Linked DNA regions of Homo sapiens. The protein of the gene in region 1 purifies or fractionates together with the protein of each later gene. This does not show direct contact. Each region holds a gene or a part of one and is shown in the gene's direction. Other genes may lie near its edges. The genes, in order: ZMAT5, RNPC3, PDCD7 and ZCRB1.

What was found.
Region 2: the proteins of ZMAT5 (region 1) and RNPC3 purify together in Homo sapiens (affinity purification with mass spectrometry; 2 studies listed by BioGRID and IntAct, with this or other methods). This does not show direct contact.
Region 3: the proteins of ZMAT5 (region 1) and PDCD7 purify together in Homo sapiens (affinity purification with mass spectrometry; 2 studies listed by BioGRID and IntAct, with this or other methods). This does not show direct contact.
Region 4: the proteins of ZMAT5 (region 1) and ZCRB1 purify together in Homo sapiens (affinity purification with mass spectrometry; 2 studies listed by BioGRID and IntAct, with this or other methods). This does not show direct contact.

The regions. Positions count from the first base shown.
Region 1 is NC_000022.11:29,735,984-29,743,013, reverse strand, and holds part of ZMAT5 (zinc finger matrin-type protein 5), read left to right. Parts: intron 1-533; coding exon 534-596; intron 597-2,283; coding exon 2,284-2,364; intron 2,365-4,572; coding exon 4,573-4,684; intron 4,685-7,030.
Region 2 is NC_000001.11:103,549,680-103,555,750, forward strand, and holds the end of RNPC3 (RNA-binding region-containing protein 3), read left to right. Parts: intron 1-1,261; coding exon 1,262-1,394; intron 1,395-2,041; coding exon 2,042-2,101; 3' UTR 2,102-2,113; intron 2,114-4,964; exon of another isoform or gene 4,965-5,354; 3' UTR 5,355-5,560; downstream 5,561-6,071. UniProt on the Homo sapiens protein: Participates in pre-mRNA U12-dependent splicing, performed by the minor spliceosome which removes U12-type introns. U12-type introns comprises less than 1% of all non-coding sequences. Binds to the 3'-stem-loop of m(7)G-capped U12 snRNA.
Region 3 is NC_000015.10:65,130,806-65,137,673, reverse strand, and holds the start of PDCD7 (programmed cell death protein 7), read left to right. Parts: upstream 1-3,865; 5' UTR 3,866-3,892; coding exon 3,893-4,762; intron 4,763-6,868. UniProt on the Homo sapiens protein: Promotes apoptosis when overexpressed.
Region 4 is NC_000012.12:42,316,065-42,323,094, reverse strand, and holds part of ZCRB1 (zinc finger CCHC-type and RNA-binding motif-containing protein 1), read left to right. Parts: intron 1-648; coding exon 649-677; intron 678-5,196; coding exon 5,197-5,308; intron 5,309-5,647; coding exon 5,648-5,755; intron 5,756-7,030.

The DNA.
Region 1 (7,030 bases):
AAGACCAGCCTGGGCAACATAATGAGACACCAGCTCTACAAAAAGATAAAAAATATTAGCTGGGCATGGTGGTGCACAGCTGTAGTCACACCTAGTTGGGAGGCTGAGACTGGAGAAGGATCACTTGAGCCCAGGAGGTAGTGGCTGCAGTGAGCCATGATTGCACCACTGCACTCCAGCCTGGGTGACAGAGCGAGACCCTGTCTCTAAAAAACAAAAAAACCCAAAGTCCCCAGACTCTCCAGCTGACTCCCTCGTGCCAAGTTGAGAACTGCTGGCATGAAACTTGGTCCTTGTCTTTGGCCCGTCCTGCGTGGGGTGGGATGGATTGAGGTCACCTGCAGCTCGGATCCATCTGCCCAGGACTCCCACCTGTGGTCATCTCCTGCTTCCACTCCTCCGTGGAACAGGAAACTCTTCTTTCTGCACAGCTGTGTCGAGATAAAGGGTCCATATGCCCCTGTGGCTTCCACTTCCTGCCTCCTTTGGTGGAGCCTGAACCATCCGAATCCCGTCCCTCTCTTCTCTCGCAGATGCAGCTGCCATCTTGCTGGATGAGCAGAACAAGCGGCCCTGCAGGAAGTTTCTACTGACAGGTAAAGTCCTCTGCACAGCTCAGGTCCCTGCGGGGACCTGCGATATCCAGCCTGCCCCACTTGGACCTCTGCAGAGTGTCTTCCCCGACCCGGGCCACCATCCCAAGCCCACTTTGCAGCAGTGGCTCCAGCTGACTGGCCAGTCAGGGCCTTCCCAAGTGTGTCTCAGGACCTCCTAGAGTCTGGTCCTCAGCTCTTCAGATCTAGAATGTGATTATATCAGCTCACCTAGAACAAGCAAGGCGTGGGAGATTACATGTAAATCCAAGAGACACTTATGGGTGGAATAGACTTGTTGATTAAGTTAGCCTGGGAACCTGGCCTCCTTCCCAGCAGGCAGAACTTCAGAGAGTAACAGGGTTGATGATCTGAGGAAGTTCAGGATCAGAACCAAGGATGCTAGGTGTAGATTTGACTGCTCAGTACTCAGCTACTAGAGATGCATATAGGTCAGAGAGATAAAGGGCCGAGCATGGTGCCTCACTCTTGTAATCCCAGTACTTTGGGAGGCTGAGGTGGAAGGAATGCTTGAGGCCAGGAGTTTGAGACCAGCCTGGGCAACATAGCGAGACCCCATCTCTACCAAAAAAATTTTTTTTAATTAGCTGGGCATGGTAGCACACACTGGTAGTCCCAGCTACTAGGGAGGTTGAGGCAGGAGGATCACTTGAGCCCAGGAGTTCAAGGCTGCAGTGAGCTATGATTGCACCACTGCACTCCCACCTGGGCAACAGAGTGAGGACCCTGTCTCTTTTAAAAAAAGACAGAGCAAGAGGTAAAACCTCAGTAAGTGAAGGAACCAAAGACAGATACAAATAAGAGTAGGAAAAATAAGATAAAACCAAGAGAATAGTCTCCTCCATGCTTGCCCTTGAGGTCCTATGTATTCTCTAAGGGTTTGGCTCTGAGCTTCCTGGCAGCCATGGCAAAGAGGAAAACTATGATGATTCACATGGTTTGTAAGGGAGCTTAGCACTGGGGAGAGGTGCTGCAGCTGAACTAGGGAAACTGGGTGAATGTCCAAGCTCCCCTAGGATGGGCACCAAGCCTGCAGATCAGGGGCTTCCCTACAGACTTTGCCTTGATGTGAATATGTCACTGGTAGGTTATCCTGGCTTGAGACACCTCCAGCCTCCCAGTATCTCGACATACATTTTGGTCTCCTTGGTTGAAAGAGGGGAAGCCACCCCAGATTTTGGTGCCTCTTTGGCAAAGCTGCCACTGAAGCCTTTCTAAGGAGCAGTCCAATTGCTCCCGTGAGCCAGGTAGGCAGGCAGAATACTAGGCTGGGCATAGCACGTGCTGCGGCTTGGAGTGGAGAAAGGAAGCATTGCCCTTTCAGGAACCCATATGTAGTTCATCGAGGCAGGGCTGGGAGGGCTGGTGACAGAGACAGCCTGCAGAGGCTTGCGAGGCCCAGTCATGACAGGCTTCAGTTGGAAGTGATCCCCAGCATGGGGGGCAGCTGGAGAAGGGTCGTGAGCATGTGGCATGATAGGTGAGAAGTCGCTCTGGCTGCTGAATGGGCAGGGCCGGAGAGATTCCATTTTCTGTCCCGGATCAGGGTTGCTATTCTTTAGGCCCTGAAGTCCTGCCCCTAAGATTCTGGGATCCCTCATCTGGGCACCCCTCAGCCCCTGTGGGGAGCCCCTCCCGAGCAGCGAGTAACTCTGTCTTCCTGCTGCAGGCCAGTGCGACTTTGGCTCCAACTGCAGATTTTCCCACATGTCAGAGCGAGACCTGCAGGAGCTGAGCATCCAGGTGGAGGGTACGTCTCGGGATGCCCTGGGCTAAGCGGGAGTGGGGTGCTGGGGCATGTGGGCTCTGAGACCGGGGAAGCTGGCCTATGCCTCCCTATCTCCCCATCATTGGCAACCAAGGGCCACCCAGGGTGATGCGGAGCCCTGAGCCCCCGGTTTGGGCCAGGTGTTAGGAACAGCTTCAGCATGAGTGGAGAAGGCAGGCCTGTGTCCCCTTACAGTGGAGCCTGTGTGGCTTCCTGCCTGGGAGCCCTGAAGGTGCACCTCAGCCCCACCTGGACCCTGTGGCCAGCCCAGCAGTCATTGGTGGGTACACCCCATCCCTTCCTCAATCAGGCAGCATACCCAGTCCCCACTTGGCACCAAGCAGACCCCTTACGACAGTCTAGGGATAAGGAGTTTAGGAACGCACCTTCCCTGCCCTCTGGAGTCTCACAGCCTGGTGATTCCAGGGAGGGGCAAGTTCAGCTTCCATGGAAACTGACATCTCGCCTTTGGGAAATTCACTCCTCTAGTTAGAGAACAAGGAAGTTCTGACTGAGATGGTGTTTATCAATCTTCTTCCACAGCCTCTCACTGAACAGGTGGGGAAACTAAGGCCAACATTCAGACTGAAAGGCCTCGCGTGAGCCCCCCAGCAGGTTGGGGGCAGACTCCAGGTCTCTCAGTGCCTGCCCCCTTAAGCTTCTCTGTCCAGGAGGCCTCAGGGTAGCCAGTGAAGGTCTGGGGCAGCTTGGCCTTTGCCCTGATCCCCCTACGGGCCTCACTCCCCTCTGACCAGTTAGACACTGCAGGCTCCGTGCCCTGCCCTGGGAGCCAGTGGTGCTGTGGCTGCAGCCCCGGGACCAACACAGGGTTTCCAGGAGCATTTTTCCCCAGGGTGGAAGCAAGGCCTTGTGGGACTGGCCAGCAAGTCCTGGCAGCAGCGGCAGCTGCAGCTCTTCCCTGGCTATGGGCTCTCAGAGGACGGCTGGCCCATGGTGGGACGAGCACGGGGCAGTGGGCCTGGAACTGGAGACGATGCCGAGCGGGGACAGGAATGGGGAGAGGCCCAGGGAGGCTGGGAACAGAGTCCCAGCTGGCAGCTCTGACAGTCCCAGCTCTGCCACGTCCTCTGTAACCTTGGTACGTGGCTTAACCTCTTGGAGGCTGTGTCCTGTCGAATGTGATGTCTCTAAGGATGAAGCAAGATGACACCTGTACAGCCCAGGGCCCGGCCCCAAGTGAGCTCCAGAGACCAGGGCCCGGCCCCGAGTGAGCTCCAGAGACCGAGGCCTGGCCCCGAGTGAGCTCCAGAGACTGGGGCCTGGCTCTGAGTGAGTGCTAGTCAAGTGTATGATTACTTTCCTCTGGCCCAAGACTCCATCCCAGATGACTTGGCGACTCTGACCCCATCAAACGCTCACACCCAGCTTGTATAAATTCCATTCGTTGATTGGTTTTAATTCGTTGAGCAACAGGTTTTGTTGGACAGCTTATGAGAATAAAAACCAGGGAAGCTGAGGCTCATTACCCTGCCCAGGGTCAAAGACCCGGCAGGTGACAGAGCTGAGATGTGACCCCATTCGACTGCCCTCACTGCCTCCCTGCACCTCAGATTCAGACCCCTCCTTAGGGCCAGGCTCTCTCTCTCTTTTTTTTTTTTTGAGATGGAGTTTCACTCTTGCCGCCCAGGTTGGAGTGCAGTGGTGCGATCTTAGCTCACTGCAGCCTCCACCTCCTAGGTTCAAGCGATTCTCCTGCCTCAGTCTCCCAAGTAGCTGGGATTACAGGCACCCACCACCACACATGGCTAATTTTTTTTATTTTTATTTTTAGTAGAGGCAGGGTTTCTCCATGTTGGCCAGGCTGGTTTCAAACTCCTGGACTCAGGTGATCCGCCCGCCTTGGCATCCCAAAGTGCTGGGATTACAGACGTGAGCCACCACGCCTGGCCAGGGCCAGGTTCTCTACAAGCACTGTCCTGTTTCCAGCTCCCCAAGAGCTTGGAGGCAGCCGGGGTTGTCTCTATTTGATGGGAAAACAGAGCGAGGCCGAGTGCTGGGCCCTCGTGCACAGATGGCCTGGAGAAGCAGTCCAGGTGCATCCTCCTGGAAGGTTGCTGCAACTTCCCAGGCTTGCTCAGGGCCTACCAGTTGCTTCTGCTTTGTGAGAGGGTAGGGTTCTGGCAGGCAGGAGTGTACCCCTCACTTGCCTTTGTCTCCCTGTCCCCACAGAGGAGAGGCGAGCCAGGGAGTGGCTACTAGATGCTCCTGAGCTCCCCGAGGGCCATCTGGAGGACTGGCTGGAGAAGAGAGCCAAGCGGCTGAGCTCAGCCCCAAGTAGCAGGTACAGGTCCCCAGGGTTCCCTCCCGCTGTGCCCCCTGGGGGCAAAACCCCAGCCCGCCTTCCCCTTCCTGAGGCTCAGGAATCTCCATGAACTGCCCAGGCCCAGGGGCCGAATAAAGTTGCCTACACATAGCTCCCCGAGGAGCCCTTGGGGCCCCAGGCCCTGGCCAGAGGCTGAGGGGTGTTTGAAAGAGCCTCTCCCAAAGCTGGGCCCCTGTTGGAGTCTGTGCTGGCTGGAGGGGAGGCAGGCGGCAGAGCTGATTTGGCTGCAAGTCACAAGTCCGTTGCCAGAGGGAGGGGCCTGGGCTGTGGTCACCATGCACTGCTGCCCACTGTTGCCTCTAGGGCCTTGCAGAAGGGAAAACAGGGAGGGTGCGACTTGCCCGAGGGCACACAGACGGGAAAATGTAGAGCCGGGATTGCACAGGCGTGATGACGAGGTCCTGGTCCCACTGCCTTTCTAAGGAAGGGGGTCTGGAGATGGCCCCAGCCCTCGGGACGCTCACAAGTAGAAGGGGAGCTGCTGGATCGGGGTCCTTGGGGTGTGTGCTTCGTGATGTCCCTGGTCCTCCTCTTTGAGGGAAGGGCCTCGGGTGATATTCACATCAGAACGGGGCACAGGGCAGGCAGGGGCAGACAAAGGCTGGCGGCCAAAACCGAAGCCTGAGCTCCTGGGCTCTTCCTCCAGCAGTTGAAGGAGGGAGGGGAGGAAAAGGGGATAAAGCTGCGCCCAGGAGCCGCATGCGACTTTGAACACGTTTTCCCATCCCGACTACCTTGCTTTCCCCATCTTGCAACGGGCTTCAGACCTGACTACCTCTGTGGTGTGGCTTCACAAAATGGTGGCCTGGCCTGGGCCAAGGGGACCTGGCCAGATAGTCTGGGGGAAGAGGCCTTCCCTTGGAGCTCTGCCAGGAGGTGAAGGCCAAACTTCTTGCCTTCTCTGTGCTCCAGTGAAAGAGACTATGAGGGTGTTTTTTTTCTTTCTTTCTTTCTTTTTTTGTGATGGAGTCTTGCTGTATTGCCCAGGCTGGAGTGCAGTGGTGTGATCTCAGCTCACTGCAACCTCTGCCTCTGGGTTCAAGCGATTCTTCTGCCTCAGCTTCCCAAGTAGCTGGGATTACAGGCACCCACCATCATACCTGGCTGATTTTTGTATTTTTGTAGAGATGGGGTTTTACCATGTTGGCCAGCCTGGTCTTGAACTCCCGACTTCAGGTGATCCGCCTGCCTCGGCCTCCCAAAGTGCAACGTGTTGGGATTACAGGCATGAGCCACCACACTCGGCTTTTTTTTTTTTTTTTGAGACGGATTCTTGCTCTACCGCCCAGGCTGGAGTACAGTGGTGCAATTGTCTCATTGCAAACTCCACCTCTTGGGGTTCACGCCATTCTCCTGCCTCAGCCTCCTGAGTAGCTGGGACTACAGGCACCCGCCACCACGCCCGGCTAATTTTTTTGTGTGTTTTTAGTGGAGACGGGGTTTCACCATGTTACCCAGGATGGTCTCAATCTCCTGCCCTCCTGATCCACCCGCCTCAGCCTCCCAAAGTGCTGGGATTACAGGTGTCAGCCACCGCGCCCAGCCTTTTTTTTTTTTTTTTTTTTTTTGAGATGGAGTCTCGCTCTGTCACCCAGGCTGAAGTGCAGTGGCACGATCTCGGCTCACTGCAACCTCCGCCTCCTGGGTTCAAACATTTCTCATGCTGCAGCCTCCCAAGTAGCTGGGATTACAGGCATGCACCACCATGCCCGGCTAATTTTTGTATTTTTAGTAGAGACAGAGTTTCGCTGTGCTGGCCAGGCTGGTCTCGAACTCCTGACCTCAGGTGATTCACCTGCCTCAGCCTCCCAGAGTGCTGGGATTACAGGCATGAGCCACCGCACCCAGCCAGTAAAGGTGTTTTAAAACTAACTTTGTCTTTTACCTTTATTTTAAATCCGTGTTCAGTTTTTGTCTCCCCACCTTAAAAGTATATGTGGTACAGACATGACTCAAACGTTGGAGTGTGACATTCTCTCCTCCTGGTCCTGTCTGAAGGGTCCCGTCTAAAGGGGTTCTATCCTGTCTTTGTGCATGTGAGCACCTCCTTTGGGACTGGTTGCTGTCCAGGGATCCACGTCCTACACCCCAGACTCCTTCAGCCCGTGTGCAAAAGGCTTGAGCTGGTTGGAGGCTGCCCAGAAAGCTCTGGCCCCTGCACCGCTACTTGGACAGGATCTCCTATGAGTCCCATCCTCACTCTGCCACCTGCTAACCGAGTTGCACCAGCCACTCGCCTCCCTGCTCTGGGTCCATGGTGTCCTCCGCTGGGAGCGAGTCACAGAGGCCCGGCTGTCTCTTGGG
Region 2 (6,071 bases), on another chromosome or scaffold:
TACATGGAATAGTAGATCACTATATTAGGAATTTAAAAATTTGGTTTGTGTTTCTGACTTTAGATCTTAGCTATCTGCTTTGAAGAGTCACTCACTGTCTCTGGACATCACCTGTAAAATTATGGTTTTAATTAGATAATCATTGAGGTTCCTTTCTACTCCGAAGTTCTGTAATTGCTTATAATAATATAATGAACTCTAGGCCAGGTGTGGTGGTTCATGCCTGTAATCCTAGCACATTGGGAGGCCGAAGCGGGGGGGATCACTTGAGGTCAGGAGTTCAAGACCAGCCTGGCCTATATAGTGAAACCCCATCTCTACTAAAAATACAAAAATTAGCCAAGCATGGCGGTAGACGGCTGTAATCCCAGCTACCCGGGGGGCTGAGGCAGGAGAATCGCTTAAACCCAGGAGGTGGAGGTTGCACTGAGCCAAGATCACGCCACTGCACTCCAGCCTGGGCAACCAAGCAGGACTCTGTCTCAAAAATAATAATAATCATAATAATAATAATATAATGAATTCTATAATTGCTTATAACTGGCTGTTAATCCTTTCTATTTTTCCATTCTTGGTTATGTAGTAGTAGTTGTTTTTTTAATCACTTGAGCAGATAGTGCCAGATTGTAAGGAACTTAAAAAATTGAGATAAATAGTAATTTAAGAAGTTTGCAGCCAGTGCGGTGGTCCACGCCTGTAATCCCAGCACTTTGGGAGGCCGAGGCGGGCAGATCACGAGGTCACGAGGTCAGGAGATCGAGACCATCCTGACTAACACGGTGAAACCCCATCTCTACTAAAAATACAAAAAATTAGCCAGGCGTGGTGGCGGACACCTGGAGCCCCAGCTACTTGGGAAGCTGAGGTAGGAGAATGGCGTGAACCTGGGAGATGGAGCTTGCAGTGAGCGGAGATCATGCCACTGCACTCCAGCCTGGGTGACAGAGTGAGACTCTGTCTCAAAAAAAAAAAAAAAAAAAAGAAGTTTGGTTTTCTAGTTGCTAATAGTATAATTTTTAAATCACATACTTTTATGATAGTTGAGAATAGTTAAAAGTATATCTTAAACAAATACTACCTACTTGTAGAATCAATTTTAGTGCAGAACATGAAATATATTTTTAGAAAACTGAATAATTGACGTGCCTATCAAATAGTGTAGTCACTTTTATTTGAAATAGCAAAATGTTAGATTATTCAACACATTTTCATTCACATTGAAACTGACATTCTTTGAATCAAAACTGTTTCTTCCTTCTAGGTTTGATATACGTTTGATGAAAGAAGGTCGTATGAAAGGACAAGCTTTCATTGGACTTCCTAATGAAAAAGCAGCAGCAAAAGCCTTAAAGGAAGCTAATGGATATGTGCTTTTTGGAAAACCCATGGTGGTTGTATCCTTTAAATCCATCTATTTCAAAACTATATAATTTTTAGAAGGATATAACTGAAATTAATTTTCATGTTACCCTTTAGAAATTTCCACAATTGGCATTCTAGCAGTAGATATTCATTCGTTACAATTAAACCCACCTTACTGAGTCAGATGACAGTGTTATTTAGATTTTTAATAAAAGAGCTTCAGCAGCATGAGGTTGTTCAATTTCAGCCAAGTTTAAATGTTTCACTTATGCAGCTCAAAAGTACATAGGCATGCTAAGAGACTAGAGTATCCAGAAGTACATTTGGAGTCATAAAAGAACTAATTCATTTTATCATTTTATTGTAATTTATATTTCTACATGAGAATTTTAATAACTAGAGTATATCATTGATTAACCATCTTGCTTTTAGTAGTCAATGCAGTTTGCAAACTAGAAATCAGCAAGATAGGTAAAGAAGCAAAGGCCCAGGTATAAAAAATAATGACTGTAAAGGAAAAGTTAATTATTAATTTCCTCTCAAGTCATGAAGAGAGGCAGGAGGCACTCAAGGTAAATTAAAAAACCATACTCCCACCATACACTAGAAAGTTTTTGAGAATTATTTAGAAAAGATTACTTGCATATTCATGAAGGAAACCTTAATTTTAAATTATTAGCAGTTTGCTCGATCTGCTAGACCAAAACAAGATCCTAAGGAAGGAAAAAGAAAGTGTTAAAAATTAATAAAGGTAAGTGTGAATAAAACATAATAAAAAGACAAGACTAATTCTTGAGATAAAATTAAGAATAAAAGTTTGACAAGGTAGTAATTCAGGTATCTCTTTTTTTTTTTTTTTGAGGAAATACCTATCTGTGCAGTTAAGTCCCATTAAACGTCAAAACTATAACTACAGATTAAAACCCATTTATATGTGAAAATTAAGTTTGGAGAATGAATCTTATAAGGGGAGTGTGCCTGTTACTCTTTTTTTAACTTTTTCTGCCTATAGTAAAGCAATGGTTCTTAAACCCTAATATGTATCATATCACTTGGAGAGCCTAATAAAACACAGATTCGTAGGTTCCTTCCTTCCCTGAAAGAGTTGATTTGGTAGGTCTGATGTGGGGACCTAGGGAAACTGTTTATACCAGTTTTCCTTTTAATGAGGGGATTTCCAGGATGCTGGACATTTAGTGCTGAAATGGGGAATGTGTCTGGTAAGCCAAGACAGGTCGGTCACCCTTGTTGGCACCTGAAAATTTGCGAGATTAATGAGGTTTCAGGTAATGATGAGGCATCTTATCCAGAGACCACAGCTTGAAAACTCCTGGAATAAACACTTACAGATACATTTTCTAACTCTTAAAATTAACCTAAAGTAAATGTTAAAATAAAAGTTAAAAAAAAAAGTCAAACTGTCATTAAAAATAATTCTGGCTGAGCACGGTGGCTCACCCCTGTAATCTCAGCAATTTGGGAAGTGGAGGTGGGCGGATCACAAGGTCCAGAGATCAAGACCATCCTGGCCAACATGGTGAAACCGACTCTCTACTAAAAATACAAAAATTAGCTGGGTGTGGTGGCGCCTACCTGTAGTCCCAGCTACGTGGGCGGCTGAGGCAGGAGAATCGCCTGAACCTGCGAGGTGGAGGTTGCAGTGAGCCGAGATCAAGATCACGCCACTGCACTCCACACTGGCAACAGAGCAAGACTCCATCTCAAAAAAAAAAAAAATCTACAGTGCTGAGTATATAAAATTATTAACACATTTCACAACAATATGTGTTTGTGGAGTTAAATATTTTTTGTCTTTAAAACAGGTAATTTTAGTGCATACTTAATTTGATGATTAAATATGGTAGAATTAAGCATTTTAAATGTTAATGTTTGTTACATTGTTCAAGAAATAAGTAGAAATATATTCCTTTGTTTTTTATTTAAATTTTTGTTCCTCTGTAAACTAAAAGAACACGAAGTAATTGGTCACAATTACTGGTGTTTAACTGCCAAATATGGGTAAATAAGGGAAAATTTTGTTTAATATTTAGTCCTTCTGAGATGGCTTGAATATTTGAATTTTGTTGTACGTCTATACTGGGTAGTCACAAGTCTTATAAACACTTTAGAGGAAAGATGGATTTCAGTCTGTATTTTTAAACATCATTTATTTTAAATCTGGTGCTGAAAAATAAGAAAAAAATTAAACTGCATTCTGCTGTTCTTCTTTAGAAGCATTCCTGCGTAAATACTGCTGTAATACTGTCATGCAAAGTGTATCCTTTCTTGTCGTATCCTTTTTGGGGCAGTGTTTTTTTGTTTTTTTCCTAGAAATGTTTGTCCTTCCCCCACCTGTTGATCCAGGTTAAGGAATACTTTTTTACACTTTATTCAAATGAAATATTTCTAAAATTATTTGTATAGACTGAACAGATCTTTTATGTGTTTTTAGATTTGTTGTTGAATTTTCTGTGCTGTCCTTTATATAATTTTTTGAGGGAAAGTTAGTGAATCAGGTCAACTTACTTAGAGAATGTGTTCATTTACTTTAACCCAGAATACAGTCTTGTTTCTTCTATTTGTATGTTTCCTAAACCTAATTCAATAACATATGCTTTCTGTTGTGTAATATATCTGGTTTAGGTATTTATAATGTGTTTAAAATTTGGGCAAAGGAAATGTTTTTCTTTTAAAAAGTACTTACATTGAAAATTAAGATGTCTGGATTACTATGTAAATTCTAGAGAGTAGCAGACCTCTCATCTGAAGTCTTAGTGAATCTCTTTTGACATAGATAGCAATAGAAGTATCTTTCTTCTTTCCCCTTTCTTTTTCTAAACAAGAGAAGAAAAGCGTAATAGAGGGGAGAACACATAATGCCCACTAAGGGTAGTGCATTAAGGAAAAACAGTCTTGGCAGGTATATAGGAATAGTGGTTTCCAGACTGGTTGATGACCGTAATCACCAAGAACAGTGGTTCTCAGTCTTGGCTGCACATTGCAGTGATCTGGAACTTAAATACTAATTTTAAAAGGGTGCAGTGGCTCATACCTGTAATCCCAGCACTTTGCAAGTCCGAGATGGGAGAATCACTTGAGCCCAGGAGTTTGAGACCAGCCTGGGCAATGTAGGGAGACCCTGTCCCTACAAAAAATACAAAAATTAGCCAAGTGTGGTGGCTTGCACCTCTGGTCTCAGCTACTTGGGATGCTAAGGCAGGAGGATTACTTGAGCCCCAGAGGTTGAGGTTGCAGTGAACCATGATCACACCACTGCATTCTAGCCTGGGTGACAGAGTGAGACCCTCTCCCTCCTAAAAAAATCCTTAAGAAATATATTGATGCTTGGTTCCTTTGGTCAGAATTTTGATTTAAGGTGTTGGGAGTGTAGCACAGATGTTGGAATAAACCTCTCAAACTGATTTTAATATACAAACAAGGTCGAGAACCACCAAGGAAGAGTTTTTATGCATAAAGATTCCTGTACTCTACCCTAGAACTAATACATCTGAATCTCTGGGAATGGAGTATAACAATCAGATTTGAAAAGGTTTCTTTAGTAATTTTAAGGACTGACCAGTTTAGACACTGCTTTGTTAGAGTAAAATGATTAGGTACCTAGTATCAACCTAGCCATCCAACCTTATATTAATAACTAGGAAAATAAAGGGTTGGAGCCTCTGTGTTTCTTTGTTGAAAAATCTGCTACTATTATTAGATCTGTGAAAACAATTGAAAATTCGGTTATTATCACCTTAAAAGTACAAAACCTATAGATTTTGAAAATGTAATTATTTTTCTGTAGGCATAGTTAAAAAGATTTTGTAAATGTTATAAATCAGTTTCTTTATAAGCGGTTTATTTAGATAAATTTTGTTATACTGACATGATTCACTAATTTTCTAAATATAAATGGTTCAGCTCTTAGTTATTTTTAAACTAATGACCTGTGTTATACTTCCTATTTTTAATGGGCTTTTATGATGTTTTAGGTTTTTTTGAATCCCGTGTCCTTCAAGTGCTTTCTAACTTTGAGAGGAAGAAATTGACCACCTGGACTATGGAACTGTGCGTAACAGCTTTGAAAGTGTATTTAAAAATTAAATCTATATGCCTTTAAATCAGTGAATTGGAAACATATTACATGTATTTTAATGATTTTCCTCAAATATAATAAATTGTTTCCTTTCCAATAAAATAGTGTTTGTATTTTTTCTTTATCTGGTTTAACACATCTAGGAAAACATAATATTATAAAAAATATATATAATTTGTAATATAATTTTTTTATGATTACAAATACTGCCTTTTAAAAATTCTTACCTGGATACCAAAGCACTTTCACATTTTTTTTATTGTAATCTTGTTTTTTGTAATTATTTTATATTTGTCTGGCTTTGAGTTTTACTGGGCTTTTGGTTTTTTGGAAATGGGGGTTTATCCCAATTTAGAAATTTGTATCCTTGCTGTAATACAGTCTTCCATTTTTGTTCCCCCAAATCTTTCATCTGTCAGAACGTCACTCAAAGGTGAAAATATTTCCCACATAAAATTATTCTGTTCCTTTAATGAAATGAGTTTCAGCTGTATATACGTAGGAAAACATTCTTTTTTGTCAACTTGACGTTGACAAACTTGGTGGATGTCAGGAGTAAGGGTATTCAAGAGAATTTTGAAGAAGAATTTAATATAGTGAGTATCGAAGACAA
Region 3 (6,868 bases), on another chromosome or scaffold:
TTTTAGCAAAGAGACTGGCAGCATTTTGCTTCTGCCTTAGAGATTTGTGGAACTTTGAACTTAGGAGAGATGACTTAGGGTATCTGGCAGAAGAAATTTTTAAGCAGCAAAGCATTCAATAAGTGACTTGGGTGCTGTTAAAGGCATCAAGTTTTAAAAGGGAAATAGAACATAAAAGTTCAAAAAATGTGCAGCCTGACAATGCCATAGAAAAGAAAATCCCATTTTCGGAGGAGAAATTCAAGCCAGCTGCAGAAATTTGCATAAGTAACGAGGAGTTGAATGTTAATCTCCAAGACAATAGGGAAAATGTCTCCAGGGCATGTCAGAGATCTTTGCGGCAGCCCCTCCCAACACAGGCCCAGAGGCCTAGGAGGAAAAAATGGTTTCATGACCCAGGCCCAGGGTCCCGCTGCTGTGTGCAGTCTAGGGACTTGGTGCCCTGTGTCCCAGCCACTCCAGTCGTGACTAAAAGGGGCCAAGGTACAGCTTGGGCTGTGGCTTCAGAGGGTGCAAGCCCCAAGCCTTCACAGCTTCCACATGGTGTTGAGCCTGCGGGTGCGCAAAAGTCAAGAATTGAGGTCTGGGGCCGGGTGCACTGGCTCACGCCTGTAATCCCAGCATTCCAAATGATTGTGAGGCCTCCCTAGCCATGTGGAACTGTAAATCCATTAAACCTTTTTCCTGTATAAATTACCCAGTCTCAGGTATGTCTTTATTAGCAGCATGAAAACAGACTAATACAGAGGGTCCTTGGATCTTGTGCAAGAAAGATTTCAGGGCAAGTCCACAGTGCAAAGCAAAAGCAAGTTTATTAAGAAAGTAAAGTGGTGAAAGAATATCTACTCCATAGACAGTAGGGCGTTCCTGAAAGTAAGAGGAGAAACGTGTCCACCCTAGGTAGAATGCTTGCTTATATATAGGATAAAAAAAGATCATGGGGAGATGTGCTCTGCCACAAGGGTTTGTGATAAAGGATTAATTTTTTAAATTACTATATTTTACAAGAATCAACATTATTATCTTTAAAGCAAAATTAGGAATGCTTCTATTCTCAAAATATCGGGATCTCAGGACACTCCTAAGTACGGGTCTGTTTAGTAAATGTTATTAGTCTGTTCCCTTAACCATAAACATCTAGAGGCTAGGAATACCTAACTTCCTGGGAATGCAGCCAAGCAAGTCCCAGCTTCACTTTTCCTAGCCCTCACTCAAGATGGAGTCACTCTGGTTCAAATGCCTCTGACAATACTGTACTACAGTTTTACAAGATGTTACCCTTAGGGGAAACTGGGTAAAGGGTACACAGAATCTCCCTGTATTACTACTTCTCATATTCCATATGAATCTACAATTGTCTCAAAATAGTTTAATTTTAAAAATCTAATCAGGTGGCACAGGCTTCTCTTTACCTCTTGTTTAAAACCAATAGTTTCCCACTGGTCACAGTGGCTCACGCCTGTAATCCCAGCACTTTGGGAGGCTGAGGCAGGCAGATCACCTGAGATCAGGAGTTCGAGACCAACCTCAACAGGGAGAAACCACGTCTCTATTAAAAATACAAAATTAGTCGGGCATGGTGGTGTGTGCCTGTAATCCCAGCTACTCAGGAGTCTGAGGCAGGAGAATTGCTTGAACCTGGGAGGTGGCGGTTGTGGTTAGCCGAGATCGCGCCATTGCACTCCAGCCTGGGCAACAAGAGTGAGACTTGGTCTCAAAACAACAACAACAACAACAAAATAGTTTCCCATTGTTCATAAGATATGAGACCCCAGACATTAGGACTTCACTTCACCAGGATCACCAGACTCCTCTCAGAGCTCCATCCATAACTCGCATTCTTTTTTTTTTTTGGAGACAAGGTCTCGCTCTGTCTCCCAGACTGGAGTTCAGTGGTGTGATCTCGGCTCACTGCAACCTCCACGTCCTGGGTTAAAGCAATTCTCCTGCCTCAGCCTCCCCAGTAGCTGGGATTACGGGCACGCACCACCACACCTGGCTAATTTTTGTGTTTTAGTAGAGACAGGAATTCACCATATTGCCCAGGCTGGCCTTGAACTCCTGAGCTCAGGCAATCCACCCGCCTCGGCCTCCCAAAGTGCTGGGATTACAGGCCAAAACTGGCATTCTATCAGGCTTCCCACTAGACATAGTCCTGTAACCTAAGGCAGGTCCAGTTCCCTGCAGCTTGCAAATTCAAATAACAAGTAAGAGAATGGTAAAAAGAAAGTGACTGCCACGGGCACGGTGGCTCACGCCTGTAATCCCAACATGATCCAAGGCAGGCGGATCATGAGGTCAGGAGATCGAGACCATCCTGGCTAACATGGTGAAACCCCATCTCCACTAAAAATACAAAAAAATTAGCCAGGCATGGTGGTGGGCACCTGTAATCCCAGCTACTCGGGAGGCTGAGGCAGAAGAATGGCATGAACCCAGGAGGCAGAGCTTACAATGAGCCAAGATCACGCCACTGCACTCCAGCCTGGGCGACACAGGGAGACTCTGTCTCATAAAAAAAAAAAAAGAAAGAAAGTGGCCAGGTGTGGTGGCTCACACCTGTAACCCCAGCACTTTGGGAGGCCAAGGTGGACGGATCACCTGATGTAAGGAGTTTACGACCAGCCTAGCCAGCATTGTGAAACCCCCTCTCTACTAAAAACACAAAAATTAGCCAGGCGTGGCAGCAGGGGTCTATAATCCCAGCAACTGACTAGGGAGGCTGAGGCACCAAGAATAACTGGAACCTGGGATGCAGTGGTTGCAGTGAGTGGAGAGTGCGTCATTGCACTCCAGCCTGGGTGACAGAGGGACTCTGTCTCAAAAAAAGTGGGGGGTGCACGGGACTTGGTTGACCTGGATGGCATGCAAGGGGTGGGGAGGGACCAAGGAGGTGCTGGGTCTATGGGACTTGCTCCTATGTATCCATCAGTGATCTGGTTGGCGCCATGGAGGCTGGGGCGAAGGCGGAGGGGGGGTGGGGGGTAGCGGGGAGCTAGGTTGTAAATTGACAGTTGTCCCCAGGCAATCCCCTGGTATGGGAAAGTTCCAGAGGTCCCTGGTTTAAGCTTCGGTCCTTGGAACTAATAAGCGAACACATAATTAGATAAGCTTACAGTGTAGAGAGTGTCTGGTGGAGAGAAGGTAAAGGTTAATTGGATTTTTTTTTTTGACAGGTGTCATTCTGTCGCCCAGGGTGGAGTGCAGTGGCGTTATCGTGGCTCATTGCAGTCTTTACCTCCCAGGGCTCAGGTGATCCTCCCACCTCAGCCTCCCCAATGGCTGGGACTACAGGCCGATCTCGCCTGCCTCGGCCTCCCAAAGTGCTGGGATTACAGACGTGAGCCACAGCACCCACCCTATAATTGCATTCCTAAAGAGCTAAATAGGAGGTGGGGTGAAAGGAGAAAAGTAAAAATAATTCATTTTTCTAAGAAAATGGGTAGTTGGTCACACTCCTATTTACTAGGGCCTTTGCACATGTTCTCATCTGCACTGTGCTTCCCTCTCTTTTTCTATTTAACTATTTATCTTCCAGATCTCAGCTGCAGCCGCAGTTTCTTAGGATAACCTTCTCCAACTTCTCGAAGATACTCACCATGATTAATTGATTAGTGTGTTATACTAGGCAGATAGTTCCACGAAGAGAAGCTCTGTATCTCTCAGTCTCACTGTATGCGGAGTGGGTAGCTCTGCACCTAGGATGCTCAATAAGAACGGTATTTATGAACTGAACGACAGAAGGTTGAACGACTGCCCACTTATGCACTGAGCCTTCCGGAGGGACGAGTCTACAGGGGTCGCGCGTCGTAACGACGTCACTTCCGTCGGAAGGTTCTCATGAGGAGCCACTCAGATTCCTGTCACTTCTCAAAGCATCTCCGTCGTGAACATGGCCCTGCCACCATTCTTCGGCCAGGGTCGCCCAGGCCCACCGCCCCCGCAGCCGCCGCCTCCTGCTCCTTTCGGCTGTCCGCCACCGCCGCTGCCCTCCCCGGCTTTCCCGCCGCCTCTCCCCCAGCGGCCCGGCCCTTTTCCGGGGGCCTCCGCCCCCTTCCTTCAGCCTCCGCTGGCTCTGCAGCCCCGAGCCTCCGCGGAGGCCTCCCGCGGCGGAGGCGGCGCTGGCGCCTTCTACCCGGTGCCACCACCGCCGCTGCCTCCTCCGCCGCCCCAGTGTCGGCCCTTCCCGGGGACCGACGCCGGCGAGCGGCCGCGGCCACCGCCTCCCGGCCCGGGGCCGCCCTGGAGCCCGCGGTGGCCTGAGGCGCCGCCGCCGCCGGCCGACGTGCTCGGGGATGCGGCCCTCCAACGCCTGCGCGACCGGCAGTGGCTGGAGGCGGTGTTCGGGACCCCGCGGCGGGCAGGCTGTCCGGTGCCCCAGCGCACGCATGCCGGGCCCAGCCTTGGCGAAGTGCGCGCGCGATTGCTCCGGGCTCTGCGCCTGGTGCGGCGGCTGCGCGGCCTGAGCCAGGCCCTGCGCGAGGCCGAAGCCGACGGCGCGGCCTGGGTCCTGCTGTACTCCCAGACCGCGCCGCTGCGCGCGGAACTGGCCGAGCGGCTACAGCCGTTGACCCAGGCTGCCTATGTGGGCGAGGCGCGGAGGAGGCTGGAGAGGGTCCGGCGCCGCCGGCTGCGGCTTCGCGAGAGGGCCCGGGAACGCGAGGCCGAGCGGGAGGCAGAGGCCGCGCGGGCAGTGGAACGCGAGCAGGAGATTGACCGCTGGAGGGTGAAGTGTGTGCAGGAGGTGGAGGAGAAGAAGCGGGTGAGAGCAGCGGCCGCTCATGGGGGTAGGAGTGGTGGTGGTTGGAACCTGGAGCAGCAGGAGGCTTTAAACTTCCATTTCCCAGGGCTAAGCCTCTGTTTTACGCGCAAAATGAAGCGATAGCTAACCTTCCCAGCTCATACCACCATGTTAATTTTGTGTTAATGATGTGTGGTACACAAAAGTTCCAGGTGCACTGTAAAATCCTGTAAACACAAAGTATAGGATTACACGGTGGCACTGCACGAATGACAGGTCTCCCCTATCCTGCTCCAACATTGTCCACTTACTCTCAAAACCAGTAAGTGTCTAGTTCCTTGTGTCTTGTACTGCCCTAGGTGGTTTTAAGAATACAAAATACAGGCCGGGCGCGGTGGCCCACGCCTGTAATCCCAGCACTTTGGGAGGCGGAGGCGGGTGGATCACGAGGTCAGGAGTTCAAGACCAGCCTGGCCAAGATGGTGAAACCCCGTCTCTACTAAAAATACAAAAATTAGCCATGCGTGGTGGCGGGCGCCTGTAATCCCAGCTACTCTGGAGGCGGAGGTTGCAGTGAGCCGAGATCGCACCACTGCATTCCAGCCTGGGCGACAGAGCAAGACTCCGTCTCAAAAAAAAAAAAAATAGAGAACTTGGGGACCCTACCTCAAGGAATATATATACTCTAATTAGCTGATGGGGCAATAGTGATTTCCCTAGGATTCTTTTGTTTACAAGTTTTAAACCATGTATCCCCAGGTTCAGCAATGGTGTTTCGGAGCATTTACTATATATATATATATATATACACATACATACATATATATACACATACATATATGTATGTGTATATATATGTATGTATGTGTATGTGTGTATATATATGTATGTATCTGTGTATATATAGAGAGAGGTGTGCTAAGGTCATTACATATACCAGATTTTGAATCTTTATAACAGCCTTGAGAAGTAGGAAGTATTATGCTAATTTTACAGGTTAGGAAGTTGCATAGAGAGGTTAACTTGCCAACAGTCACACAACGAGTTTGTGGCAGTTTCCCATATTTGATCCCAAGTTGTCTAATTCCAAAGCGTATTGATCTCAGACTCTTTAAGCAGGGCCAGGGTAAAACTGGAAATTGTTCAGATGGTTTTCTAAGGCATTTTCTTTCTTTCTTTTTTTGAGATGGAGTTTCGCTCTTGTTGCCCAGGCTGGAGTGCAATGGCATGATCTTGGTTCACCACAACCTCCACCTCCCGGGTTCAAGCGATTCTCCTGCCTCAGCCTCCCGAGTAGCAGGGATTACAGGCATGCACCACTACACCCCAGCTAATTTTGTATTTTTAGTAGAGACAGGGTTTCTCCATGTTGGTCAGACTGGTCTCGAACTCCTGACCTCAGGTGATCCACCCGCCTCAGCCTGCCAAAGTGCTGGGATTACAGGCGTGAGCCACTGCACCTGGCCGTCTAAGGCATTTTCATTACCTTTGATTGCCTCTGGGGTTCCCTTTCCTCTTCCTCATTATTTCTATTATTATTACATTATAATACATAATGAAATAATTATACAACTCACCATAATGTGGAAACAGTGAGAGCCCTGAGATTGTTTTCCTGCAACTAGACAGTCCCATCTGGGGGTGATAGGAGACAGTGACAAATCATCAGGCTTTAGATTCTCATAAGGAGCCCACAACCTAGATCCCTTCCATGCGCAGTTCACTTCTTTGTGCTCCTATGAGAATGTAATGCTGCTGTTGCTGATCTGACAGGAGGCGGAGCTCAGGTGGTAATGCAAGCAATGGGGGAGTGGCTGTAAATGGAGATGAAGCTTCACTTGCTCGCCTGCCTCATCTTTTGCTGTGTGATCTGGTTCCTAACAGGCCATGGACTGGTTACCATCCGTGGCCTGGGGTTTGTTGACCCCTGGCTTAGAGATCTGTGGGAGATCATGTCAGTATAGCGTGGTGTGTGTTAGGAATTCAACTATAGGTGCTGTAAAAGCCCAAAGAAGGAACATCTGATTTACTGAGGGAATGCTTCCCAAATGATACAATGACACGTAAGCTGAGTCTTTTTTTTTTTTTCTGAGACAGAGTCTCGCACTGTTGCCCGGACTGAAGTGC
Region 4 (7,030 bases), on another chromosome or scaffold:
ATGGGTAATGAGCTGGAACTGTAGAAATAAATGAGATTGCATAGGATAAAGTAAAAGTAACAGAAGAGAGAGCCAAGTATAAAGTTCCACCAACATGTTAATGGTGGGCAGAGGAAGAAGACTGATAGAAATGGATTTTTCATTATAAAAGCTTATTTTATGAGGTTTTGTTTTGTTTTTTAAATAAAGCAGTCTAAGGATTTGCCTTCTCAAACAGGGATTGCTTAATAGGAATAACAAGGTAGTGGTGAGGGTAGAATTGGAAAAGTGCTGCTCCATAAGATTGACATTTGAAGCACAGGTGTATCTGGCACTATGATGGAGTTGATAGTTGCCATGGGTATACCTCAGGAACACAGCAGCTGTCCAGTATGTATGCCTTAGATCTACCACATGTGTAGAGTGAGTTTTTTTCTCTGTATTTACTCCATTGTCAAATTTAGAAACAGACAGATACATGTGACTCCAACAACAGTAAGTATATTATTCTAGTAACCAAAAAAAACTTTTTCCTAGGGCCTGTCTTATAGACTGAAGGCTGAAATTATTCATAAACTGTAACAAAGAATTTGGTCAATGTCTGCAACCTAAAAATTTGATGTTTTATGATTTTAAAATAAATTGTAAATATTTGGTCTTTTGTTTCAGATATTTTCCAAGTATGGCAAAGTTGTAAAGTAAGTATTCACATTAAATTTTGTAACTTCATTTAAAAGTTTATCTGAATTTGCTTCTACATTTTTTTAATGACAGATTTTTAAAAATAAAACATGCTTGATATAATAAAGAAAATACTATTAACATTTTTATGACAATTTAGTTGGTTTTCCATGTACATAAACATGTAGACAATTTTTCTTAAAGACTATTACATACATACAATTTTCTTTTCTTTTTTAATTTGACATACCATAAATGTCTTTCCATGTGCTATAAAGATACATCCTCATAGCTAATGGTAAACAAATATTTTGGTTACTAGGAAGTGTGTTATCAAGTATACTATAAGTAACCTACTTTCAAATAAATAGGTGGTTTTTTGTTTTGTTTTTTTTCATATAAATAGTGTAAAAACAAATATTTCAGTGCATCTGACTTGCAGGATGCTATGAGTCTTTTAAATAGAAAACATATTATCTTCCTTCAGAGATAGCTTGGAGATCGTTGGAAAGACTAGAAACATGCAAAAATGGTAATGGATGATAACAGGGCTGAGGGTTAGGAACAATAAAAAGAACTTGAACTTCTCGTATTTCACTGTTTTAAATCAAGCAACTATATTATGGGGCAAAAAAGTAACAGGATACTGTCATCCTAACTTTCTTGTAACCAATATAGATTCTGATATAAATTTAAAATCCCAAGAATTTTGAGCATATTTATCTTGGCTAATTTCTTCTAGTGTTCCATAAATGGATATTAAACAGTTGAAGCTCTTTTGCATCTTGAAATTACTAACTTCTTTTACAGTTACTTTGCTATTAAAAAAGCATTATCAAAAATGCTTCTGTGTAAATTTTTGGGTGTTCAGATTTTAAAAAGTCATTGTCATCAGTCCAAACACTGGTAATGATGATGGTATGTGATACTTAAATGAGCACATATATATGCCAGGCATTGTTCTAATCTCTTTATGTGTATTATTTAATTCTCACAACTACCCTTTAAGGTAGGTACTATTATCATCTCAGTATTATACATGATGAAACTGAAGCACACAGTAAACCTAAGGTCATCTTGCTAGCTAGTGGTGGAGAAAATATTTGAATCCAACAGTGAGATTTCAGAGCCCACTCCCTTTTACCTTTTTTCTTTTTCCACTTTGTTAGAATCTCTGAATGGATCTCCATATAAATATATAGTCCTAAACCATGAAACTGCAATGGAGTTAAAGACACGAGAGTTATAAGCACCTAGAAACAGGGAAGACTATCTAGTCTAGAGAGCCAGGGAAGGCTTACCTAGGTCAGTATTTTTTGAGTGGAAACCTAAAGGATGAGTAAGAGTTAAGTAGGCAAAAATAAGGGAGGAATATTTCAGGTAGAGGGAATAGCTTGTGCAAAGGCCCTGTGGCAAGAGAAAATAAAGTGAGATCAAGAAATAGAAAGAAGGCCAATGTGACTGGAGATGAGTGAGTAAGGGGGAGAAAGCACAAGGTGGCTCCAGAGATGGAAGCAGGTTCCTCATCTTACTTCTTGGTCAGGTTACCAAGGTATTTGGTTTTCATTCTAAGAATATCAGGAATCATTTAAGAATTTTAAGTGAGGGGTGACATGATTTAAATTTTTTAAAGTTTATTCTGGCTTAATGTAGAAATTAGATTGGAGGGGAACAAAAGCAAATGCAGCTGGGTGCAGTGGCACACACCTGTAATCCCAGCACTTTGGGAAGCCGATGTGGGAGGATCACTTGAAAGGTCATGAGTTCAAGACCAGCCTGGCCAACATGGAGAAACCCCATCTCTACAAAAAATACAAAAAGTAGCCGGCCCTGGTGGTACACACCTGTAATCCCAGCTGCTTGGGAGGCGAGGCATGAGAATTACTTGAACCCAGGAGGCGGATGGAGGTGGAGGTTGCAGTGAACCAAGATCACACCACTGCACTGCAGCCTGGACAGAGCAAGACCCCATCGCAAAAAAAAGAAAAAAGCAAATGCAGTGAGACCAGTCTGAATCTAAAACTGTAGCCCAGGGGAGAAATGTGTACTAAAATAGTACAGGTGGAGATATAGAGACTGGTCAGATTTGAGAGGTGGTCAGATTTCAGAGATCATTATGAAATAAAGTGGGTAATAGTGATGTGTATAGGAAGCAAAGTGGGTACTATTTAGTGATATGCTTACTTTGCGTATAAGGACTTTGTGAACAAGAAGGAGGTGTTATGGATGACATTCAGGTTTCCCAAAATAGTGTATGCTTCATATTATGTGCTTAAATAAGTACATCATATACCTTATATTAGGAAATGGTGCTATTATCTACCTCTTTTCCCTTGCCAGAAACATGGGAGTCACAGTAGATTTGTCCTTTTAAATCTCTGATGTAATTTTTTTTTTCTGTTACCACAGAAGGTATCTCTATCAAAGTATTGTATGATAGTTGGTTTGTTGGTCTGTCTCTACCACTAAACTGTAAGATTTCTCCTGAGGGTAAAAACTACTGTTAGTGCTTAGCACATGGGCTTGAGGCTAACAGAGTGACTGAGTGACCGAATGAATGAACACACACAATGTACTCTTTTAGAAACTACTTTTCCCATTTTTTTGGTCTGTCTTTCCCATTGAATATAAAGGTATATCTATCAATCAACATATTGAGCTGGGCACATATGGATTACAGAGACAGCCTTAAAGGAGTTTACATTAAAATAGATGAGATGAGGCATTGTTTATGAATAACACAATTCAGCAGAGACTAGCATAACGGAGGAGAAATTATATCCAGTTGAAGCTATTAGAAACTGACACATTGACCTGAACCCCGAAAGAATGAGGAAAATTTTAATGAGCAGTGATTCAGAGGTGGAAGAAGATAGAAGCTGTATGAACAAAGGCACAAATTTGGGGAAATACAGGCCATGCTACTGGAGCATTGAGTGGTTTCTTTTGGGTAGACTTCATAGTGTGTGCGTGGGAAGGAGCAGTGAAAGATGAAGGAGATGGGAGCCAAATCATCAAGGATACTGACAGTGGGACAAAGAATAGGCAACTTACAGAACCAAAGATTTTTGAACAAAGGAATGGTGTGATTTTATTTATTCCTTAAGTAGAAGACTACTTAAGGATATGAGAAAATTATAAGAGAAAAAATTACCATAAAGGAACCAATAAGAATAGACTGTTAAAACAGTAATGCCCCTATGGACAAGAAAAAAGCAGTGGAATTGGAAAAGAGGCAACAGATGAGAGATCATTAATTGAGGATGATGTAGAAAGCCAATACTTCTTTTGAAATACTACTTTAAAAAAAAAGACTGATAACTTTCACAAACATTACGAAAAATTCCAAAACATAAAGCAACTACCTTATTCAATATTTCTGTCAAATTGGTGATTTTTCCAACTCCAGCATTCCCTCTACATTCACCAGTCATCCCTTGGCATTCTGTTGTAAGCAAGAGCCTTCCCTCCCATCTCCTCCACTTATTTATTGGTCTTTTATCAGTAAGAATTATAAATTCCTACCTTCTCTGTGGCTTATAATTTATTACTGTAATGAATTATTTTGATGCTCAAATTGTCCTTGATTTGGCCAGTGGGAGCTCCTTCCAGCTGGCTGCTGTATTCTTGGCCCCATCATTCATTCATTCATTCCTCCCTCCGTCTCTCTCTCTCTCACTCGCTCACGCACTCTTGCACTCTCTTACCTTCTGGCATAAGATGTTCCAAGCTCCTCTTGTACCTGCCCTGCTGTAGCCTTGGAATCCGCTATTTCTCCAAAGAGCCCTGTTGAACATTGTTTTTAAACTATGTTAAATGACATACGGTGGGCAAGGGCCTCCATGACTAGGGATGTGGATGGGGCAGGAGAAAGAGCAGGCTCTGTGCTCTCATAACTCTCCTTGTCACTCAGGTACACCCTGGTGGGTGGTATGGCTAAAAACCACAGAACTGGAGATTCTTTTTCCCTAAAGATCGGGGTCTCATTATGTTGCCCAGGCTGTTCTCAAACTCCCATGCTCAAGCATCCTCCTGCCTCTGCCTCCCAAGTAGCTGGAACTACAGGTGCGCACCACCACAACCAGCTCTGGAGGGTTTTTTTCCTTATTTTTCTGAAGATTCTTTAAAAGAATATTAAGAATATACTTTGATTCTAACACTTAGAAAAATAAATAAATCATTTTACTTTTTGTGTAAAGTATACCTTTATTTTGTTTTGTTTTGCAAGGTGAGGGAGTTAGCATGGAAGAGGGATTGTGGTTACACTTTAAGATTTCATTGTCTCTGTAATTTCTTTACTTCACCCTTCAATCTCTGATTAACTCCTAATCATAGCTGTGCTCACTTCTGTTAAATCAGTATCACCCTTTCCCATTTCCATTCTTGATATCCCTTGACTTTGAAGAGATAGCTGATTTTTCAAATGTATTAATTTATCTTATAAATTTTTAGCCCTTTTTAAAATGAATTTTTCAAGTATTAGTATCTGTTTTATTTATTGCTGCCTCATTTTTAACTCTTTGTTTATGCTTTAAGGGTTACCATCATGAAAGATAAAGATACCAGGAAGAGTAAAGGGGTTGCATTTATTTTATTTTTGGATAAAGACTCTGCACAAAACTGTACCAGGGCAATAAACAACAAACAGGTAAGCTATTCATCTCCATCAAGGTTTTTAGCCCCAAAGCCTTTATGCTCATCCAGGCCAAAAATGTGGGGATATAGTGGATCATCAGGTCTAGCAGATATCAGTAGATTCTTAAGATATCTAACTTATAGAAAGAAAAGAGGTCAAACTACTGGGTTCTCAAAACATTGGTGGAATCTCAGGAATAAGAATACTACAGAATAGAATTTATCACACCTAAGTGACAATTGCTAAAAAATCCAAAATAAACTGGAATTGAAGATTTGAGAAAATTGATTAAATAATTAATTTTAGGTTTCAGTGAAATACATTCTACATTTACATTTTTCTCTTGTTTAGTTATTTGGTAGAGTGATAAAAGCAAGCATTGCTATTGACAATGGAAGAGCAGCTGAGTTCATCCGAAGGCGAAACTACTTTGATAAATCTAAGTGTTATGAATGTGGGGTAAGTAAACCTAAAACTTAATGGAACTTTCCATAGTTTAAGATACTTTTCACATCAGTCTTTTATTTTTGCTCACCAAAACTTCTGACTGGCTAAACCAGATTATGAAAATGCTTTATTTTTTAATATTTATTTTTTTGAGATAGGGTTTTCCTCTGTCACCCAGTGCAGTGATGCAGTCACAACTCACTGCAGCCTCTACCTCCCGGGCCCAACTGATCCTCCCACCACAGTGTCTGAGTAGCTGGGACCACAGGCATGCACCATCACACCCTGGTTAATTTTTAAATTTTTTTGTAGAGGCAGGGTCTTCCTATGTTGCCCAGGCCAATCTCAAACTCCTGGGCTCAAGCAGTCCTCCCACCTCAGCCTCCCAAAGTGCTAGAGTTACAGGTGTTAGCCATGGTGCCTGGCCTAGTTGTTAGGGTCTCTAAACTCATCAAAGTAAATTCAATTGAAATGCAATGTGTAAAGATAACCTGAGTTGGGTAATACAAAGTGGTATTTTCTCTAGTTCCTAAATCTTTGAAAATCACTAGTTTTAAAAGTGTTAGACTGATTACTTATGTCACTGTCTTGCAAGATTTTCGTAACTCATAAATTTTTGTTAATAGGATATTGCCTGTTTCTTTAACAGTTTTTAAGTCACAGTTCAATAGCAACATTATCATGTGACTTTATCCTCTATGGGATATTGTGTTTTGAAGTTTTTTATTTTTTCCTATTAGTATTGCTAGTGTTTTGTAACTGAACTATCCCCACATTTTCTTCTTTGGTTCTCTTCATGATCTGTCATTATCCATTTAAAGTTTTGGTGATGAAGAGAGAGAGACAGCCATAGAATAATTTTGTATAAGGTCTGTATTGGTACCAAGAGAATTTTAGTCTGGTTCTCACAGGTGTAAGTTTGTAAAATGACCATAAAAATACTTAAGAAACAGGCCGGGCACAGTGGCTCACGCCTGTAATCCTAGCATTTTGGGATGCTGAGGTGGACGGATCACTTGAGGTCTGGAGTTCAAAAGCAGACTGACCAACATAGTGAAACTGAGTTTCTACTAAAAATACAAAAAAAAAATTAGCCAGGCATGGTGGCAGGTGCCTGTAATCCCAGCTACTTGGAAGGCTGAGGCAGGAGACTCGCTTGAACCCAGGAGGTGGAGGTTGCAGTGAGCCGAGATTACTCCACTGCACTCCAGCCTGGGCAACAGAGGGAGACTCTGTCTCAAAAATAAAAATAAACATAAAATAAAATACTTAAAAAACAGAGTCCAG